2 linked regions of the Homo sapiens genome follow. The protein of the gene in region 1 purifies or fractionates together with the protein of each later gene. This does not show direct contact. Each region holds a gene or a part of one and is shown in the gene's direction. Other genes may lie near its edges.

Region 1 (3,832 bases):
CTACAGGATTGGGTAGGGGTTGGGGGGATGCGGAAACGTTAGGTCTTGTCAACGTGACATTAGCGTCTTGGTGAGACAGGAGGTTCTCTTGAGGGGAATCTCTCCACAGCTGGAGCAGAGGAAGGTGGGAAGCGTATGACCGTCCTGTGCATTCCCCTTTCTGACCACAAGGTGTCGCCACTGCAGCGGAAACATTAGTTTTCTCCGGATATCAGAAATTACTAGTCCCTTTCCGAAGGAAAAGGGGCTTGGGAGCCCCAACTCGGAATCAAAGAAGGTCCTGTGGCACAAGACCTGCACTGGTTCATCCCAGCAGCTTCCAGTGCACACGGTTTGCATCAGGGAACTGGGGGAGGATAGCGCTGACTCATTGGACTAGGAAACCCCATGTTCCCCACCCTAAACAAGGCCTAGAGCTCAAAGCTGGACTCTGACAACTAAAAAAGTCCTGACTGTCTGCAGTGTGCTGCCTACACTAAATCCAGAGTCCGAGCTTCACACTCTTAAGTGGTGGGGATCTGTTATGAGCTCTAGACCTCCTAAGTATGCCCAGGGCCATAGAGCATTTCCTAAAGTGTGTTCCTTCAAGATGCCTCTTAAAAATAACAAATCCGATTCATTTAGCAAATGAGAGCATGAATACCACACCCCGCTGTCAGAAGTTCCCAGTGCTCAACAGCATTGTAGGAGCTCTGAAAGTGCTGCCCTTAGAAAGATTACTTAATCCTAACTCAGTGATTCCTAAACTTGCTTTTTTAGGGACTCCTTCTCCATGCCGCATGTTAATATCACATGTAAACAATGTTCCAGAAAACATACTGAGGCGTGGAATTCTAGGATAGAAGGGGACACATTTTATGAAGAATGAGCATCCAGAGAGTAGTGTCCTGGGGGTCAAGGGAAGAATTTGAAGAAAGTACAAGTGAAAAGACTGAAAGAAAATAGCACCAAATCAAAGTGTTATTTATAGGTGATGGAATTATGAATGATTTTTATTTGTTCTCTCTTCTTTAAAGAGGCATTCCTTGGCCCTTTGGATGAGATTAAAACCCCTTGCCATAAGCTCAGATAGTACCTCCATCTTGAACTGTAACCATCATTGTTTCATGTCTGTCTTCTTTGGGAGACTGGAAACACCAAGAGGACAGGGACCCTCCTCATCTCGTTTATAGCTGTGATCAGCAGCTAAAGATTTTCTGTATTGAATTGAATTGAAATAATAGTTTTATATCATTTATAAATTATTATAAGGAGCATACATTGCTTTTATCATACAAAATTTTATTTTTATACATATTTTTTTCGAGATGGAATCTCGCTTTGTTACTCAGGCTGGAGTGCAGTGGTGCGATCTCAGCTCACTGTAACCTCCACCACCCAGGTTCAAGCGATTCTTTTGCCTCAGCCTCCCAAGTACCTGGGACTAGAGGCGCACACCACCATGCCCGGCTAATTTTTATATTTGTAGTAGAGACGGGGTTTCACTGTGTTAGTCAGGCTGGTCTCGAACTCCTGACCTCAAGTGATCTGCCCGCCTTGGCCTCCCAAGGTGCTGGGATTACAGGCGTGAGCCAATGTACCCGGCCACAAATTTTTAAAAGAAAATTATCAATGGCTCCAGGGAGTTCTAGACCTGAAACAGGATTTTTGTTCCTGTTTTATAATTTCTTAATTTTGTGACCTTGAGCAGTTCACTTAACTTCTTTAAGCCTCCAGTTAACTCCATGAATTGGAGATTGAAATATTGAGGATTGCTGGAAGGATGAAAGGACATCACATTTGAGGATGTGTACTGAGCAGCACATCCGGAGAAGGAAAATCTTGAGATGCAATCTTGCAGGAAAGTGACGGTGGGGCGGAGAGAGGACAACTCCCCTGGTTTTGCCCCTAGCACCAAGTGGCAAGAGGCAAAGCTGGTATGATTGACAGGGCCAGATCTGTGACCTGAAGCTTGGACTTGTTACTGAGGATTACGTCTAGTGGTTGCTGGGCAGCCCCTGAAATGTCTGAACAGAGCAGTGACAGGATCGTATTTACAATTTAGAGCGTCTCTTAGGGATGGCGTGTAACCACCTGGTGGCAGCAGGGATCAGGCAAGGCTGGCTCTGCAGCAAAATTAGAGGAGGTAGGTCTCCAGCTCCTCTCAAAATAGCAGTTATAACAAAGCATCTTGGATGGCAGGACATATACATATGCCCAAGCACAAAGCTCTTGCTTTCAAGATGAAGAAATTCATAGGATGATAGATTGAGGGGAAAGGTCTTCCATGAGATATTCTGGTCCGTTCTCTTCGATTCAGGAGGATCAGGTGTTTTCACTCCTGCTTTCCGAAGGAAGCCTACAGCTCAAAGAAGTTAAATGGCTTGCTCAAGTGGCGGCAGATGTAGAGGAAGAGTCTAGACAGTCTGCCTCCGTCCCACCCCAACAGCACACACATTCACCACCCCCCATACCACACACACTACACATGCAACACACACCACACATCACACACCACACACATTACACCCACCACACACCACACATCACACACTGCACACCACACATACTACACACGCCACACACACCACACACAGTACACACCACACACACCACATGCAGCACACACACTACACACACCACACACACCACACACCACACACACACCACACACATTACACACTCACCACACACACTACAAACGCTGCCACATACACACCACACCACACGCACCACACTACACATGCCACACACACCACACACACGCCATACACACACCACACACACCACATACATCACACACTACACACACACTACACACACCACACACCCACCACACACCAGACACATCACACACTCACCGTACCACACACACTACACACACCACACACATCACACACTCACCACACACACTACACACACCACATACACACATACCACACATATGCCACACACACCACATACCATACACACACTACTCTCACAGAGCACAGCACACACACGCTGCACATCACTGACACACCACACACCACACACACTGACACACCACACACACTGACACACCACACACACCACATAACACACAGACACACACACACACATACACCCCACACACCTCTCTCATGGCAGAAATCCAGAGATCAGAGTTTTTGATTTCCAAAGGCTTCTTTCATATGAGTCTAAGCTAAGAGATTTGGTTTCTGAAGATCATAAAAGTAATAATATCTTCTGATTAGAAAGCATTTTCATGTAATACATAATGTGCATTATGTTTCCTGAGCACTTACTACATATCAGGCATTCTGTTGTGGGCTTATATTTATTATTAGTACCTCATTTTATGCTTGCAAGTACCCTGTGAGGCAGGTACTATTATTTCTGATTTTAGATGAGGAAATGGAGGTTGAATGAAGCTGAGTTACTTGCTAAAGACAAATTAATAAGTGGCAGAGCCAGGTGTCAAACCCAGGGTGCCTGACTGAATTCTGAGCACTTCACATTGTGGGCCCTGCCTGGTTTAAGCGTCCTGCAGCCCTGGAGGTGGACATGGGGCTCCGGCCTGAAGAAGCTCAGTGGCAGAGGTTGTGCTTCCCAAGGAGTCCAGACCTCCCATTCCTGGCTGTCTCCACTCCACTGTAGTGCCTCTCTTCACCCTGACTCTTCTTCCCCTGCAGCCTCAGGTCAGCCTGTCTCCCTGAAGAATATCTCCACAGACACATCGGGTTACTACATCTGTACCTCCAGCAATGAGGAGGGGACGCAGTTCTGCAACATCACGGTGGCCGTCAGATCTCGTAAGAGCAGCCTGCGGGGGGAGGGCTGACAAACGCCACAGGATAACTGGTGGGGGTCC
Region 2 (3,832 bases), about 160 Mb from region 1:
CTGCAGCCTTGGCCTCCTGGGCTCAAGGAATCCTCCCACCTCCCAGTGGAATCCTCCCAGTCTCCTAGGTGACTGGGACCACAGGCGGATACCACCACTCCCAGCTAAACTTTTTTTTTTTTTTTTTGGTTTTAGTTTTTTTTGTGGAGACAGAGTCTCAACATGTTGCCTAGGCTGGTCTCGAACTCCTGGGCTCAAGCAATCCCTCCACCTCAGCCTCCCAAAGTACTGGGATTGCAGGAGTGAGCCACAGCACTCAGCTGAAATTTTTGACACATTTAATTGATTCATCTCTGTATATCATATTTTTAATTTAGAAAATATTCTCTCAATTCTAAATTTCTTCATATTAGAACATAAAAATATCTTGGCCCAAGTATTTTGACAGGTATTGTCTTTTTAACTTTATTCACAACAGTTTTCTTTGACACATTTTTCTAAATCATCTTTATTTATGATCTTTTGAATGTTTTATCAAATTTAGATGCTATAAAACTGTAGACCTTTTCAATTCCATTTCATTCTTGAACAGAATATAAATTTACCTAATTAAACATGACAGCTCCACCAAGATTCCTACACAAAATAAAGATACTCCAAAATGCCGTTATGGAATTTCAAAATTGTATCTCATTATATCTCATAAACTCTTATTTATTTTGTATGGTTTTTTTCCCCCTAAAAAGATCAGCTTCAGATTATTTTTCATTACAAGCTTTATTTTCAGTGATTGTAATTTTTTTTTTTTTTTTTTTTTTAGACGGAGTCTTGTTCTGTTGCCCAGGCTGGAGTGCAGTGGCACAATCTTGGCTCACTGCAACCTCTGCCTCACAAGTTGAAGCAATTCTCCTGCCTCAGCCTCCTGAGGAGCTGGGATTATAGGTGCGCACCACCACGCCCGGCTAATTTTTGTATTTTTAGTAGAGATGGGGTTTCACCATGTTGGTCATGTTGGTCTCAAACTCCTGACTTCGTGAGCCGCCTGCCTCGGCCTCCCAAAGTGCTGGGATTACAGGCATGAGCCACCACACCCGGCCTGTTCTTGTTTTTGAGACAGAGTCTTGCTCTGTCACCCATGCTGGAGTGCAGTGGCGCAATCTTGGCTCACTGAAACCTCCACCTTTCAGGTTCAAGCAGTTCTCCTGCCTCAGCCTCTAGAGTAGCTGGGACGTGTACCTGGCTAATTTTTGTATTTTTAGTAGCAACAGGGTTTCTACCACGTTGGCCAGGCTGGTCTCGAACTCCTGACCTCAGGTGATCCCACTCCCTCAGCCTCCCAAAGTGTTGGGATTACGGGTATTAGCCACCACACCTGGCCACAGATTGTTCATATACTGCCATGCAGTTTTGTTGATTATTCAGAATCATCATCATGACAGAGATGTGTTCATGCTGTTACTCTGTGAATATAAAAAATTTGTAAATTTTGGCAACTACAACTTCATTTTCCATGGGTAGAATACCACAGCTTGTTTTGACACAATTATGCATTATGCGTATCACTACAACTAATTCTAAGGATGTTTCTAGTCCATGGGTTTCTTGATTTAATAAGAAAATTTTTTACCATAACACTATACTGCCTCCAAGTTGGTATTTGAATATCACCGCAAAAACAAACACGTTTACCTTTAATGTGGAACTTTTTGATTGAGTTTATAGTAGCATTCATAATGTCAGGTGTTTCACCCTCAACAGAAATCAAGTAATTATTAGGGTTAATGCATTTTCAGATTGAAGCATCTGATAGAAAGCTAGCACCAGCTGGGCGCGGTGGCTCACACCTGTAATCTCAGCACTTTGGGAGGCCGAGGCGAGTGGATCATGAGGTCAAGAGATCGAGACCATCCTGGTCAACATGGTGAAACCCTGTCTCTACTAAAAATACAAAAATTAACTGGGCATGGTGGCGTGCGCCTGTAGTCCCAGCTACTCGGGAGACTAAGGCAGGAGAATCGCTTGAACCCAGGAGGCGGAGGTTGCAGTGAGCCAAGATCGTGCCACTGCACTGCACTGGACTAATGGCTAATGTTGCCTGGTGACAGAGCGAGACTCCATCTCAAAAAAAAAAAAAAAAGAAAAGCTAGCAAAAAAACATTGTTTCAATGGGCTGCAAAAAGTTTAGTTAAAAAAATGTGTGTGGCCATGGTTTTATATACTGGATTAAGATAATGTCCGTTTTTAAAGTTGTGACTATCAAAGAATAATAAACATTGATTTTCTGAGTAACAAGCATTTTTATCAGCAAAATTTTAGCTTAGAATTCCTTGAGCAAATACAGTGTTCTGTTTCTCAAACTTAATTCTCATTAATTTGAGAAGGTGGATTAATTTTAAAGTCTCCCATTTGTTCATAATTTGTGCTGCTTTATCTTTGAAGGTATTTTTATTTAAAGAGTTTTAGGGTAGTTTTGTGGTATAAGGTTGTTTACCAAAAAATGTTTAATCCATGTAGCTCATTTCTAGGTGGTTTTGTGCATTCTTGGGTCCTGTTTGGTCTCTGAAAATCAAACTGTCTAGCTCTTACTCCTTTGACTAACACTTTTGTCTTTGGCGTGTCATTGCTCTGCAGACATGCGGACCGGCTCTCCTGGTCAAATGATGTTTTCTAGCTCTGGACGTCTGTGGTGCTCTGCAGTTTGGTTCGGACTGTGACATTCATGCTTTGTGGGCTTCCTGGTGGAGTGTCCTACCTAAACCCAGTGAACCCTGAAGTCAAATGACTTGTTCAATTAAAGCGAGCTGGCTGTTGAAGTGTAGCATTGTCTTTCATTCCACAAATACCACCCGTTCTGCTGACGGCTTGTTTTTCTGCCCCAGGGAACGATCAGCGTTGGAGTAGATGCCACCGACCTTTTTGATCGCTATGATGAGGAGTATGAAGATGTGTCCGGCAGTAGCTTTCCGCAGATTGAAATTAATAAAATGCACATATCCCAGTCCATTGAGGTAAAGCACACAACCACCTCTCCGAGTACAGCAAGGGCTCGAGTTAATGAGGCACAGCACACCAAGCAGCTGGAATGAGAGTCTGCCCAGGGTTTTTCTCATCTTTATTTATGAAAGGATGCAATTAGCCACTTAAAAAAGAAAGCGCTTCATTCCCAGCCGTGTGTTACCGCTGTGCTGGCATGTGAGCCAGCAGGAGTGTGGGCTGGGGCACTTGGCTCCCAAGGTCTTGGGCCTTTCCAGCAGAGGGTGTTAATGGTCTGGGAGAAGTAGAGGCCCAAGGTCATGGGGTTCTGGGAGAGAAAGCAGACCTCCATGGATCATTCTAACAACCAGTTTTAGTTTTAAGGCAAATTCTGCTAGGTGCCGCAAGGCTATAGCAGCTCTCATCCTGAGCCCTGGGCACGCGAAAATGTCACCATTCTGCCCACTATTTGGATGTGACGAGGTCAGGTCATTCTCCTGAGCGTTTATAGTAGGTCTTTGTCTCCTCAGCTCATTAATTTATTCTCCATTGCATCAGCCAACAACGTGGAGTCCTAACTTGGGGAAATTTGCCCCCTCTTGGAGCTCCCTGAGTCAGTTGATACAGAATACAGCCATGGGAAGGTCTTCAGTCCCCCTGGAACCCTGATGGCAAACCACAGAGGGAAGGCACACAGTGAAGTCACTGTGCTATCTGATACCATTGGGACATGCAGCCCCATGTTTCCCCTGGTGTTGTGAAATGTGCCCATTAAAGCTTTTGCAAAGCATATTACCCTCGTGGTCACATGCAGACCAAATAACAAAGCGGAAGAAAAGTGAAGCTGTTGCGGCAGTTCTGCATCCATGTGTGCTTCTGAACAGAGGAATCGTCTGCACCTTTGGCCTTGGGCTCACAG

The links.
Region 2: the proteins of GPA33 (region 1) and DNAJC11 purify together in Homo sapiens (affinity purification with mass spectrometry; one large-scale study listed by BioGRID and IntAct). This does not show direct contact.

What each region holds. Positions count from the first base shown.
Region 1 is NC_000001.11:167,055,671-167,059,502, reverse strand, and holds part of GPA33 (cell surface A33 antigen precursor), read left to right. Parts: intron 1-1,075; exon of another isoform or gene 1,076-1,196; intron 1,197-3,653; coding exon 3,654-3,773; intron 3,774-3,832. UniProt on the Homo sapiens protein: May play a role in cell-cell recognition and signaling.
Region 2 is NC_000001.11:6,653,027-6,656,858, reverse strand, and holds part of DNAJC11 (dnaJ homolog subfamily C member 11), read left to right. Parts: intron 1-2,819; coding exon 2,820-2,948; intron 2,949-3,832.